Homo sapiens: one gene and its partners. The protein of the gene in region 2 purifies or fractionates together with the protein of the main gene of each other region. This does not show direct contact. Each region holds a gene or a part of one and is shown on either strand. Other genes may lie near its edges. The genes, in order: PCNT, TXNDC11 and CCDC102A.

Evidence for each region.
Region 1: the proteins of TXNDC11 (region 2) and PCNT purify together in Homo sapiens (affinity purification with mass spectrometry; 3 studies listed by BioGRID and IntAct, with this or other methods). This does not show direct contact.
Region 3: the proteins of TXNDC11 (region 2) and CCDC102A purify together in Homo sapiens (affinity purification with mass spectrometry; 2 studies listed by BioGRID and IntAct, with this or other methods). This does not show direct contact.

Annotation. Positions count from the first base shown.
Region 1 is NC_000021.9:46,428,596-46,432,241, reverse strand, and holds part of PCNT (pericentrin), read right to left. Parts: intron 2,233-3,646; coding exon 2,010-2,232; intron 1,736-2,009; coding exon 1,585-1,735; intron 714-1,584; coding exon 27-713; intron 1-26. UniProt on the Homo sapiens protein: Integral component of the filamentous matrix of the centrosome involved in the initial establishment of organized microtubule arrays in both mitosis and meiosis. Plays a role, together with DISC1, in the microtubule network formation.
Region 2 is NC_000016.10:11,678,471-11,681,254, forward strand, and holds the end of TXNDC11 (thioredoxin domain-containing protein 11), read right to left. Parts: intron 1,368-2,784; coding exon 725-1,367; 3' UTR 613-724; downstream 1-612. UniProt on the Homo sapiens protein: May act as a redox regulator involved in DUOX proteins folding. The interaction with DUOX1 and DUOX2 suggest that it belongs to a multiprotein complex constituting the thyroid H(2)O(2) generating system.
Region 3 is NC_000016.10:57,533,703-57,538,046, reverse strand, and holds the start of CCDC102A (coiled-coil domain-containing protein 102A), read left to right. Parts: upstream 1-1,475; 5' UTR 1,476-1,547; intron 1,548-4,344.

The DNA of each region.
Region 1 (3,646 bases), on a different chromosome or scaffold from region 2:
ACGCTCCGCCGGCAGGCGGCTCTCACCAGCTTCTCCTTGTCTCTCTGCCACTTCCTCCACTGCTCCGCAGCCGCTGGGCTCTGCCTGGCCTCCGCGCTCCTCCTCGCAGCCTTGCGTCCTTCTTGCTCTTTCAACCGTGGGTGTGACTGCTCTAATTCTGCCTGCAACCACGCTGGTTTCTCCCTCTCTCTCTCCAGAGAGCATCTCAGCTCTCGTTTTTGGGTGTGCAGGGCTTCCACCGTCGACTTCAGTGTGGCACTTACCTCCTTCTCTCTCCTGAGCGCCTCACAGTGCTTCTGAGCCTCAGCCTCAAGCTGCTGCTGAGAATGCAGGGCTTGCTGCTGCACCTTTTCAAGCATCGCTTGCAAGTCCACCACCCGGGACTTCTCCTCCTTCAGCTTCTGCAGCAGAGCGTGATGGGCCTGTGTGTCCTGGTGCACGCAAGCCTCCTGTGTCCTCTGGCTCAGCTGCTCGGTCAGGAGCCGCTCGTGCCGCAAGGCCTCTGACAGCTCCAGGGTGCGGCTCTTCTCAGCCGCAAGGTCCTTCTGGAGCTCAGAGAGCTGGCTCCGCTCCTGAGCCAGCAAGGCCTCGCAGCGTGAGTGCTCGATACGCAGCTCCTTCTGCAGGTTGTCCTTGGCCGTCTGCTCGTGTTTCAGTGCCACGCAGAGTCGACTGCTCTGAGCACGCTGTGTCTCCAAAGACGCCCGCAGCTCCTAGACAGCAAACACATACGATGGGAGACACTGAATCAAGAGGAAAAGTGTCTACATGGTTTTCCTGTCCACATTTGTTTATATACTTTAGCCCAGCAATTCTACCTTTTGAAATGCACCCTATTAGCCACATGTAGGGACAACATTTTTTTGTTAGTTCATCAAGTAACAAAAAACCCAGACTGCGGAGATGACATACTTTTTTCGGAAATGGTGTTGAGTCCTGGGTTCAGAGATGTTCCCAGTCTGTCCCTCTCCAGAAAATGATTCAGAGATGTCCCCTGCCCGCCCCCTCTCCAGAAAATCACTCCACCAGAGGCTCCTGCCCCCTCTTCAGAAAATCACTCCACCAGAGGCTCCTGCCCCCTCTTCAGAAAATCACTCCACCAGAGGCTCAGAGATACACACCCAGCTTGCTAGGAACCACCACTTCCATGCTGTTGAAAGCCATAACCCATGGAACTGGCACAGACTTGCTCAGAAGCCACAGCAGGCCTGCTGGGCCTCCGCCATGCAAAGCAGAGGCCCCACCACCAGCCTGCCTTGTGCACAGACCTCTGAGGCTGTGCTCTGTCTGGATGCCAGCGAGGAGGCTGTGTCCATCTCCACAGCAAGTGCTCAGGGACGGGGGGGGGCTCCGAGCAGGGGTATCGTGCCACCACGGGTCATCGCACTCTTCGCCCTGTGGTGGCTGCCACTACACCAAGGTGCAATTTTACCTGCAAACACAGCCCTATCCTGCTACGTCACACTGCTGTCAACTGGGTGCACTGCCATGAAGAACAGGAAAAGAAGGATGAAAGAGGAGCATGGCTTCAGGCTTCCAGTGCACACAGCCCATGCCGGCTGCCTTGCCCTGACACCCTGTTACCTCCAGGGCCTTGGCACTCTGGCTCTCCCTCTGCAGGTGCCGCAGCTGCTCCTCCTCCAGCTGGCTCTGCAGGGCACGCCCCTTCCCCTGCTCACTCTCCAGCTCCTGAAGCGCGGCCTTCAGCTCGTTCTCCTTACTGCTCAGCATGGATCTGCGTGGAGACATCGCAGAACAATCTGACCACGTGGGCCAGAGTGTGTTCCCGGGGGCTGGGAGCTCCAGGAGGGGAGGCAGAGCCCTGCCAGGTCCCACACGTGTGCTTCACCCCCCACCACAGGATTATCAACCCAGGGACAGCAGGGCGCGGTGCCCCTGGGGCTGCCCAACTGCGGCCCACCAGAGGTTCTGTCTCCCTTCATCACCAAGAAAACATGGCACAACGGGGGGACTCCCGCCAGTGTCCCAGGAAGGGGGATCAGGCGCACCTCAGCTGGAGGACCTCCTGCTGCACCTCGCAGAGGGACCGGGACAGCTGTTCGCTCTTCTGCCTGCTCTCACAGAGGTCGGACTTCAAATCTCGCACTACAGTCTGCTCCGCCGCCAGGAGCTTCTGCACGCTGTTTGCCTTCTCTTGCTCTTCACTCAGCGTCTTCTGCAAGTCACCAGCAATGCACTTCTCCTGCTCTACTTTATAAGCCAGCAGTTCAACTGAGAAAGACAAAAGAACAGTAACAGGCCCCCATGAGCTCCTCGTGCTGCACAAGTGACACCAGGTTAGAGACAGACTCGTGGGGGCGTGAGGTGTATGTGCTTCGGGAAGAAAGGAGGTTCTGTGGACTAGAAGCTTTCACTGCGGGTGGAACCAGGATGCTCAATTCTGCCCTCTGGGCCCATTTCCTTCCAGGGCCCACCCACCTGGCCGGGAGACACAGAGTCCAGGAGTGATATAGCCCTGGGGCCATCCTAAAAATGCCACCTCACCCCCACTCACACCCTAAACTGCCTCCAACAGAGGGAACTCCAGGCCCAGGTGGCTTTACTGGAAAATTCTCCCAAAACTTAAGGAAGAAATAACCCCAATTCTAGACAACGGAGGGCGGAGGGGCTACTTCCCAAATACTTCCCGCACCCCGTGGGGCTGGCGCTACCCAGCACCAAGACCAAAAAGGCACAACAGAAAACAGACCAGTGCCCCTCACGAGCACTCAGACAGCACCGGCCCACCACCCCCATGCCCCTCACGAGCGATCGCACAGTGCCGGCCCCCCTGTGCCCCTCACGAGCACGTGCACAGCGCCAGCCCCCCCATGCCCCTCACGAGCGCTCGCACAGCGCCGGCACCCCCTGCCCGTGCCCCTCACGAGCACGTGCACAGCGCCAGCCCCCCCATGCCTCTCACGAGCGCTCGCACAGCGCCGGCACCCCCCGCCCATGCCCCTGACAAGCGCTTGCACAGCGCCAGCCCCACCCATGCCCCTCACGAGCATGTGCACAGCGCCGGCCCCCAGCCCCAGAGAGCACAAAGGGCATGGGCGCCGGGACAAGGGCCGTGGGCTGAACTGCAAGGCCGTTCCCCTTGACGGAATCCAAAACTAGGAACAGAGGGCACTTGCCCAAGCTGACCAAGGGCGCCTGACCCCACATGCGATGGTACGAGACCAGCTCCTGCCCCCAAAACTAAGAGCAGGGAATGGCATCTGCCCACACAGCTGACGGCACAGCACGTGAGAGAACACGGGCAAGAAACAAAAAATCGTTACTTACCCACAGATGACCTGAGCATCTACATAAAAACTCCCGAAGAAGCTAAATTAAATGTAGAAACCTACGAGACATTCCTGAACTCTAGCATGAGCTCCCAAGAATCTGCCAGCACTCAGAGCCCAACCCAGGCCCCTCTTGCCCACATCAGGCCCAAGAGTGAGGCCTCCGTGCCAGCCCCACCCAGCGCTGCCTGTCTCCAGGGTCCTTTCTGCTCAGTCCTATCAGCTGACAACCATGGCAACACTCAGGGGCTTGACTAGATGATGCCCTGTCACCACCCTCTGCTCCCAAGGCCACACAGGTGAGTGTCGGGCGGGCAGGTGCAGAGGCCGGGCCCCAGGCAGTGTAGACAGTGACA
Region 2 (2,784 bases):
TCGATTGTCAGCCTTGGCCTGGGGTTTTGACCTTGCCAGTGAAGTTTCGGTTTTGAAGTGATTAAATGTCACTTCCTCATCAGTTTCACTTCTGGAGGTTTTCTTATCCTACTCCCTGGTGCCAGGGACGTACCTGGGAGTTTGAATCAGGCCCATTTGAGCGTGGCAGCCGTGTTGGGTGAAGGTCCGGGGCTCGGTGAGGCACTGGGGGGGTTTTCGGGAGGAAAATGAAAATGCTTCTAGAATGAGTGAACCACATCATAGCTCTCACTGTTTTTTCAATAGCTACTTTTTTTAGCAGACACCAGAGCCACACTCAAATGGCTAAGTAGGTTATGACCTCTCTGGATTATTTTTGAATGCCCAACTGTTGCATTCAAGTTTTCTGACTAATAAGAAATTAAGCATTCATCCTTCGTATCACTGCAGAAGCAACAGTGGGGGCACAGGGAGGGAACTCTTGACACTGAGCCACTAAAATATGGACTAATTTTTTGGACAAATCTTCAAACGGACTGTGCTACTGTATTTGTCTCAAAGCTACCAAGTTTGTGCAATAAGTGGAAGGGATGTCATCCTTCTTCAATAAATGCTGAATGACATTCAAGCTGATTTTCTAGACCACTGAGAAAATCTTTATTTACAATAAATTTCAATAAAATTTGCATAAATATATTCCCAATGTACAATTTTCACCTCTGATTTCTTCATATCATTTAAAAAGTTAGTCTGTCCTGTTCTCCTTATTCCTTTCAGACACCAGTGTGGCGCTGACATTGGCAGGTGGAGGGGAGCTGCCAGGGAGCTGGGGGGTGGCTGAGGGCTCAGGCTGCTTGGGGTGGACCTCTCTCTGGGCCGCCAGGCTTTCAGCTCCATCCCTGCCCTCCAGTTTCCTCTCCATGGTCGCCACCAGGATCTTGAGCCACGTGTTCTCGGTAAGGAGGTTTTCTGAGGCATCGGCCAGCTCCTGCAGCTTGCGGGCCAGCTCCTGCAGCTCACGTGTCTTCTGCTCATAGAGGGCCTGCAGCTGCTCACTGTGTGCGTGGAGCAGGCTGTGCTGCTCTTCCAGGGCCCGCTGCTGCTGCCGCAGCCGGTGCTCATCTCTGCGGGCACTGGAGAGCTGGGACTCCACCTGCACTTGTGCTCGCTGGAGGCTGCTTATTTCTGCTCTCAGTTTCTGGATCTCTCTCTCCAAGTGGGAGATGTGCCCCCGCTGTAAGACTGCCTCGCTCTGAAGACACTCCTTGGTAGGAGAGTTAGCCACATTCTGGGGGCTGGAAGCAGGGTCTGAGTGATGCAAAATGAACCTCAACAGGTTTGGAAGGGTGATGGGGACGTCTTCGGGGTATTTCACACTTAGGTCCTTTCTGGAGAGAGAGGGAAAGGAAGCAAAGACAGGAGTCACACCAACACAATGAGTCCAAAAGCAGGCTGTACCTGAGGCCAGGCCATCTACTTCTCACCAAGAAAAGACGTTCCGTGGATTTTACTTACTGAAAGTAAGGAAAATGTTGCCTGGGCAAGAAATTCTCTACAAAGCTGAGGCTGTCCCATATGCTCGTTCTGTAATTAAGATGGCTTATCTGTTCCTGAAGCCAGAGCTCAGCTTCACCCACACCCTCCAAGAAAGACAAGAGCTCCTAGGCCCAGGCCTAAAGCCAGTGATGCAGGGCCCCAGGAGTGTGTAGGCATGGGGCCTCTGTGTGCTCGGAGATGCCCAGCGGCTGTGTCAGGAAGAGCGTCCAGGGGAGGCAGGAGTGTCCCACCTATGTCCCTCTTGTGCCCACTGACAGTGCCCGGAGAAAAAGGAAGAACTTGAAAGATACCCAGTCTGTTTCTTCAGCAAGCATTTATTACACATTCTCTAAGGCAGGGGTTCTCAACTGGGGGTGACTGTACCCCCATTCCCCAGGTACATCTGGCTCACACCTGGCAACCTGATAACTGGCAAACAGCCCAACCAAAGGACTATGAATTCAGGCTGCCCAGCCCTGAGAGCACAGAATAAGGAAGGAAGGTGACATAGAAAGGGGTTTTCCCTACAGCTTTGTTCCAGGTCCTGATCTAGAGATCTAGAAAATTCCTCTTCAGAACTTGTCATTTAATCGTCTGATGATGTTTCTCTCACATATCTATTTACCTGTGCCTGTACAGCCTGGCTGCAATTGATCAAAACTACCAGCTTTATGCACTTAGGTATGAGGTGGGCCGGCAGCCGAGTTTGTCTCCCTCAGGTGTTAACAGAATGGAAGTCAACAGCAGGGACTCCAGAGCCTGGCTGCCCAGGGCCACTGGACCCGGCCGTAAATTGTTTTATAATTTTGGGGTAAACATTCAACCATCCCCTCCTTTAAAGCTTAGTTTTCTTAACATATAAGCTTTCTTCAAGTGGGGCCCAGCCATTCAAATGACAAAGCTGGGTGTGGTGCTGTGTGCCTGTAATCCCAGTGCTTTGGGAGGCTGAGGTGGGAGGATCGCTTGAGGCCAGGAGTTTGAGACCAGCCTGGACAATATAGTAAGGCCTCATCTGTATAAAAAGTAAGATAAAAAAATTAGCCAGGCAAGGTGGCACACACCTGTAGATCCAGCTACTTAGGAGCCTGAGGTGGGAGGATCACTTGAGTCCAGGAGTTCAAGACTGCAGTGAGCCGTAATTGCACCACTGCACTCCAGCCTGGGCAACAGAGTCAGACCTTGTCTCAAAAACAGAAAACCAAAAAACCCCACAACAACTGAAAACACATCGTGGCCCTGTCAAGTGGGCCCATGGAAGAATACCAGACG
Region 3 (4,344 bases), about 46 Mb from region 2:
CCAGCCCCATTTCCACCTCCAAAAACTCTGGGCAAGACCTCTGGGCTCTTGATCCAAGGCTGTTACTGGCTGTAGGACCTTGTGCAAGTCTGAGCCAAGAGCCTCTCTGAGCCTTCATTTCCTCAGCTGTAAAATGTGGATGCCCTTGTCCTCTGAGTACTCAAACCCCACATACATCTCCTATCTATCTCTGGCTGGTGAACAGACGCTTTCAACATTCAGCCACGCATAACAAATACAAAGCAAATGAATCGACAAGTGAAACTGCCAGTCTTGCAACGTATGGGATTTCATGAAGTTGGTGGAAGCAAAGCAGGAGAAATGGAACAGCCGCTGCCCACAGAGAAAGGGAACGTCTGCAAGGGAAGTGACCCAGACCCGAAAAAAGGCACTGGACTATCAAAGGATTCAGAGTGATCCTTGAGTTTGAGGAAGCTCTCAAATATTTTTGCAAAAATGAATCTCTTACTGCAAAAACCAGTTCAGAAGGGAAGGATGCTACATACTCAACTATTACAAGAAAAAGCAAGACTTCCAGTGTTAACATCTGATTCATTCTTGGTTCATTTTAAGGCGTGCGTGGTTGCAATCATAATCTAAACTCCGTTAATCACGGGGTAAAACTAATTTATCTTCGTAATATTTAGCTTCTTTTTCTAGGTAAAATCCCAATCAGGCCAGGTTTTCCCCACCATCTTGGTGAATTGTTGGTCTTCTTTTAAATAGATTCACCTCGGGGGCCTTCCAGGGTACAGGATGTAGTGGGGAGTCCTCCAGACGCCTGTCCCGGCTTTCCAGTCAAGACCACAAACATCCTACCCCCAATAGAGAGAAAGCCCCAAAACAGCTGGGCGTCCCCGAAGGCGAAGTACCGTAATTCCCCAGGGCCTGCCAACCACCATCGCAATGCAGAGAAAAGTCTCCGCCCGCCGGGCCGAGTGCTCCCCGCGCCCCCCACCTCTTAACAAGCGCAAGGTTGCTTTCGTCAACCCTTCTGTTGTACAGAAAGAGAAACTGAGGCCCGATGGGCACAGACTTGTTGGCCCACTTCCACTCGGTGGCAGAGCTGGCCCAGGGAAAAATGCAGGTAACAACAGTGAAGACTTGGTAAGCTCGCTCCACGTGCCGAGCTGGGACCCGCGGTGGCCGTTTCTGCTGGGGGCGCCTAGTACGTAGTTGGCGCTGAGGAAACCTGAACCAAGAAAGCCGAGCCCCCCCGCAACTCTCGGCCCCTCACGGGGGTGGGGCCTCCGTTGGGGTACGGCCCGCTCTGCAGCAGAGCCCACCGCCCCGGCCCGCACCCCTCGCCCCGAAGTTAGGCTGGAGCCCCCACCCCAGCAGCTCGGTGGGCCGGGGTCACAGCGGGGCCGCAGCCTGCGACCGCTTCGGGGGCCCCGCCGCTCCCCCTGCTTCCCCTCCCCCCGGGAGGGAGGAGGAGACTCCGCGGCCCTCCCTCGGCCCCTCCGGCGGCGGTCGCAGCTGCACGGTGCCCGCTCTACCCCGCCGCAGCGGCTGGGACGTACGGAGCCCGCAAGTCCCGGCCCGAGGTGAGCGGGGGCGGCAGGCCGGGGGGCGGCAGGCCAAGGCGGCCCGGGAACTTGCTCCAGGCCGCGCGCCTTCCGCGGGAAGGAAGGGGTTAAGTTGTGGGGCGTGCTGGAGGAGCAGACACAGTCGGGGCGCCCGCGGCAACCCCCGAACTCAGAGCAGAACTTTCTAGACGCCTCCCCGGCCTCCCTCAGCCCCCGGAACCCCAGGTCTCCGGTGGGGAGGGGCCGCGGGGTGATGGGGGAGGGGAGGCGCCTCCGGAATGCCGCGGCCCGGGCCGGACGGGAGGGGGCGGCGGGCGGGGACGGAATTTGGGACTCTCCCGGGGGACCCAACGTGGTCGCCATGGCGAATGCGGGATGGACGGGCGGCGCTGGCCAATCAGAGCACGGCGCCCTGCCCAGAGCCGCGGCGACTGCCAATGGGGGCCATGCGGTGGGGTGGGCGGGACCGCGCGGCGCGGGCCGGGAACCCCCTCCACCCTCCGCCCGTCGCTAGGTGGAGCGGGGCGGTTCGCAGGGCCAGCGGCTTGGGAGGGGTCGACTAAGTGAGGACTAAGGCGACGCAGGGCTGGGGCTTCAGTTTCAGTACCTTAGGTGGGGGTGGTGTCCACCTTCCCACCCCCGCTCTCCCAGGGCTCTTGTGGGGGTTGGATTGGTTTGGGTTCGGGAGGTCTGCCCACCTGTTAGAGCGTTCAGGAATCTTTTTAGTGCCTCTCCCCATCCTGTAGGTAAGGAAACTGAGGCCCAGAGAGGGCAGGGACTTGCAGATATCACACAGCATATCAGTGATGGAGCTGGGACTAGCGGGATGTCTGCTGTACAAGAGTGAAGAGTTCACGGTGTTGCCGAGAGGGGTGGGGCTGGGGTCGGGGTGGGGCTGGGTCCCCATGAAGGTTCACCCCACCATTCCAGCTGTGCGTATCCACTTGGCCTGGTGCCTGCAGACCCCATCGTGTAGGTGCTCTCGGGGGCATTGTGCCCCTCAGGTGGCTAAGATCCAGAAGAGGAGGCATCCCATCACCAGCTCCCTACTCTGGCCTTGCTGCTGGTCCGCGGTGTGGACACAGACACGTAGCTGTCCCTCTGGGCCTCAGTTGGTCCATATGTAAAGAAAGGAGTTCAAATCAATGATCCAGGCTGTCTCTGTGGCTCCTCAGTCTAAGATGGGGCTACCTGGGAATAGGCCAGGGGTGCCTACCCCTGGGCTTAGGTCCAGCCTGGAGGCCTAGCCGCCATCCCTTCCTTTCCCGCCAGCCAGCTCCCCCCAGAGGTCCTGCAGCTGGATCCTGGGCAGCAGGTCACAGGGACAGGTGCCCGCAGTCTGTGGGCTGACCAGCCTTGGGCCCTGCACTTATTCAATCAGGCTGTCCTCTGTGGTTTCCCACTGGGCTCTGCTTTCTGTCCACAGCCAGGCCTGTGGCCATGGGCTTGTCCCAGGGCCCTACCTGAAAGGCTCTGGGAGGATCTACAGGGTTTCAGAGCCGGGGAAGGGGTTGGGGCACTGGGCTCCCCATCCCTTCAGCTGGCCCCTGTCCAGGCCTTGGCATTGCTCATTCCTCTCACTGATATGGAGAGACCCATCCAAACATGCTGAGGACAAAACACAACGCTGTTCCCAGTGGGTCAATTAGGCTTCCCCAGGTAAAAGGTGGGACAGCCGACTTGGCCGTGAGATGACCTCTTATTCCAACCCTGGCCAGACAGGCTCAGATACCTACCTGTCTCAGAGCCTGGCCACCGACTGACTCCTGATCTTTAGGATGACTCAACCTTCCCAAACTCTGCATGGTCACAAGGGTACCCCTAAGAGTGGTACCACCTTCTTAGGGGTACCTTCCATCCATCACGCATCTGCTGTATGCTGGGCCCTGTGCTGATGCCCTCGCTCGTGGACTTCAAAGTAAGGCCTTTGCTGTAGAACACGGAGGTGCCTGGTGCTTTGGGAGCATACTCTGTGCAGAGAGGTTAGAGAAGGCTTCCTAGGGGAGGGGACACTGGAGGTGGGTTTTGAAGGATGTGTAGGAGTTTGCTGATGAAGGAAGGAGAGATATTCCAGACAAGTCCACAAGCAACAGGAACCACTGGGTCACTTTCTGTGGGCAGGGCTGATGAGGGCCTAGCCTGCAGCAAGTGTCAGCTCAAAATATTCTTGTTTCTGTCCTGGAGTGAGCTACCAGTGAGCACAGCTGTGGGGCTGGGGTTCAGGAGCCCTGATGGAAGCTCTAAGTGGCACAAGTGTCCCATCTGGATGAGGGAAGCCTGTACTGCCAGAAGAGAGATGGCAGCTTGCCAGGCTTGGCTGTGGGAGGTTGTAGGGCTGTGGTCCCCAGGTGGGGGTGGGGTTGGGGAGATCAAGGCATTTCCTGGAGTTGGTGGCAGCTGAACTTGAAGATGGGTGGGGGTTTTGGAGTCTGGGACATGGGCATTTGGAATACAAACCCAGAGACTTAAAGCAGTAATAGACCTGTCTGGCTGTTGGGAGGCAGGACAACGAAGGGTGGGGTAGGAAAGGCTCCCCGGGGCCTGTGGTGGCCGGTCCCACCGTGACCTGCCCCTTGGTGGGGCAGTATGCCAAGGGAACAGGAGGCCACGCCCCACGCACATAGACACCCCATGGCAAGAGGGCATTGAGCCTGGTGGAAGGGGCGGGCAGGGCAGCTGGGGCATCTCCACGACTGTAAGCCATGCTCTGCGCTGCTGCTGCCCCTCAGTGAGTGTGTGCGTTACCAGGGCTGTGTGTGAGTGTGCACGTTACTGGGGCTGCGTGTGAGTCTGTGCATTACCGGGGCTGTATGTG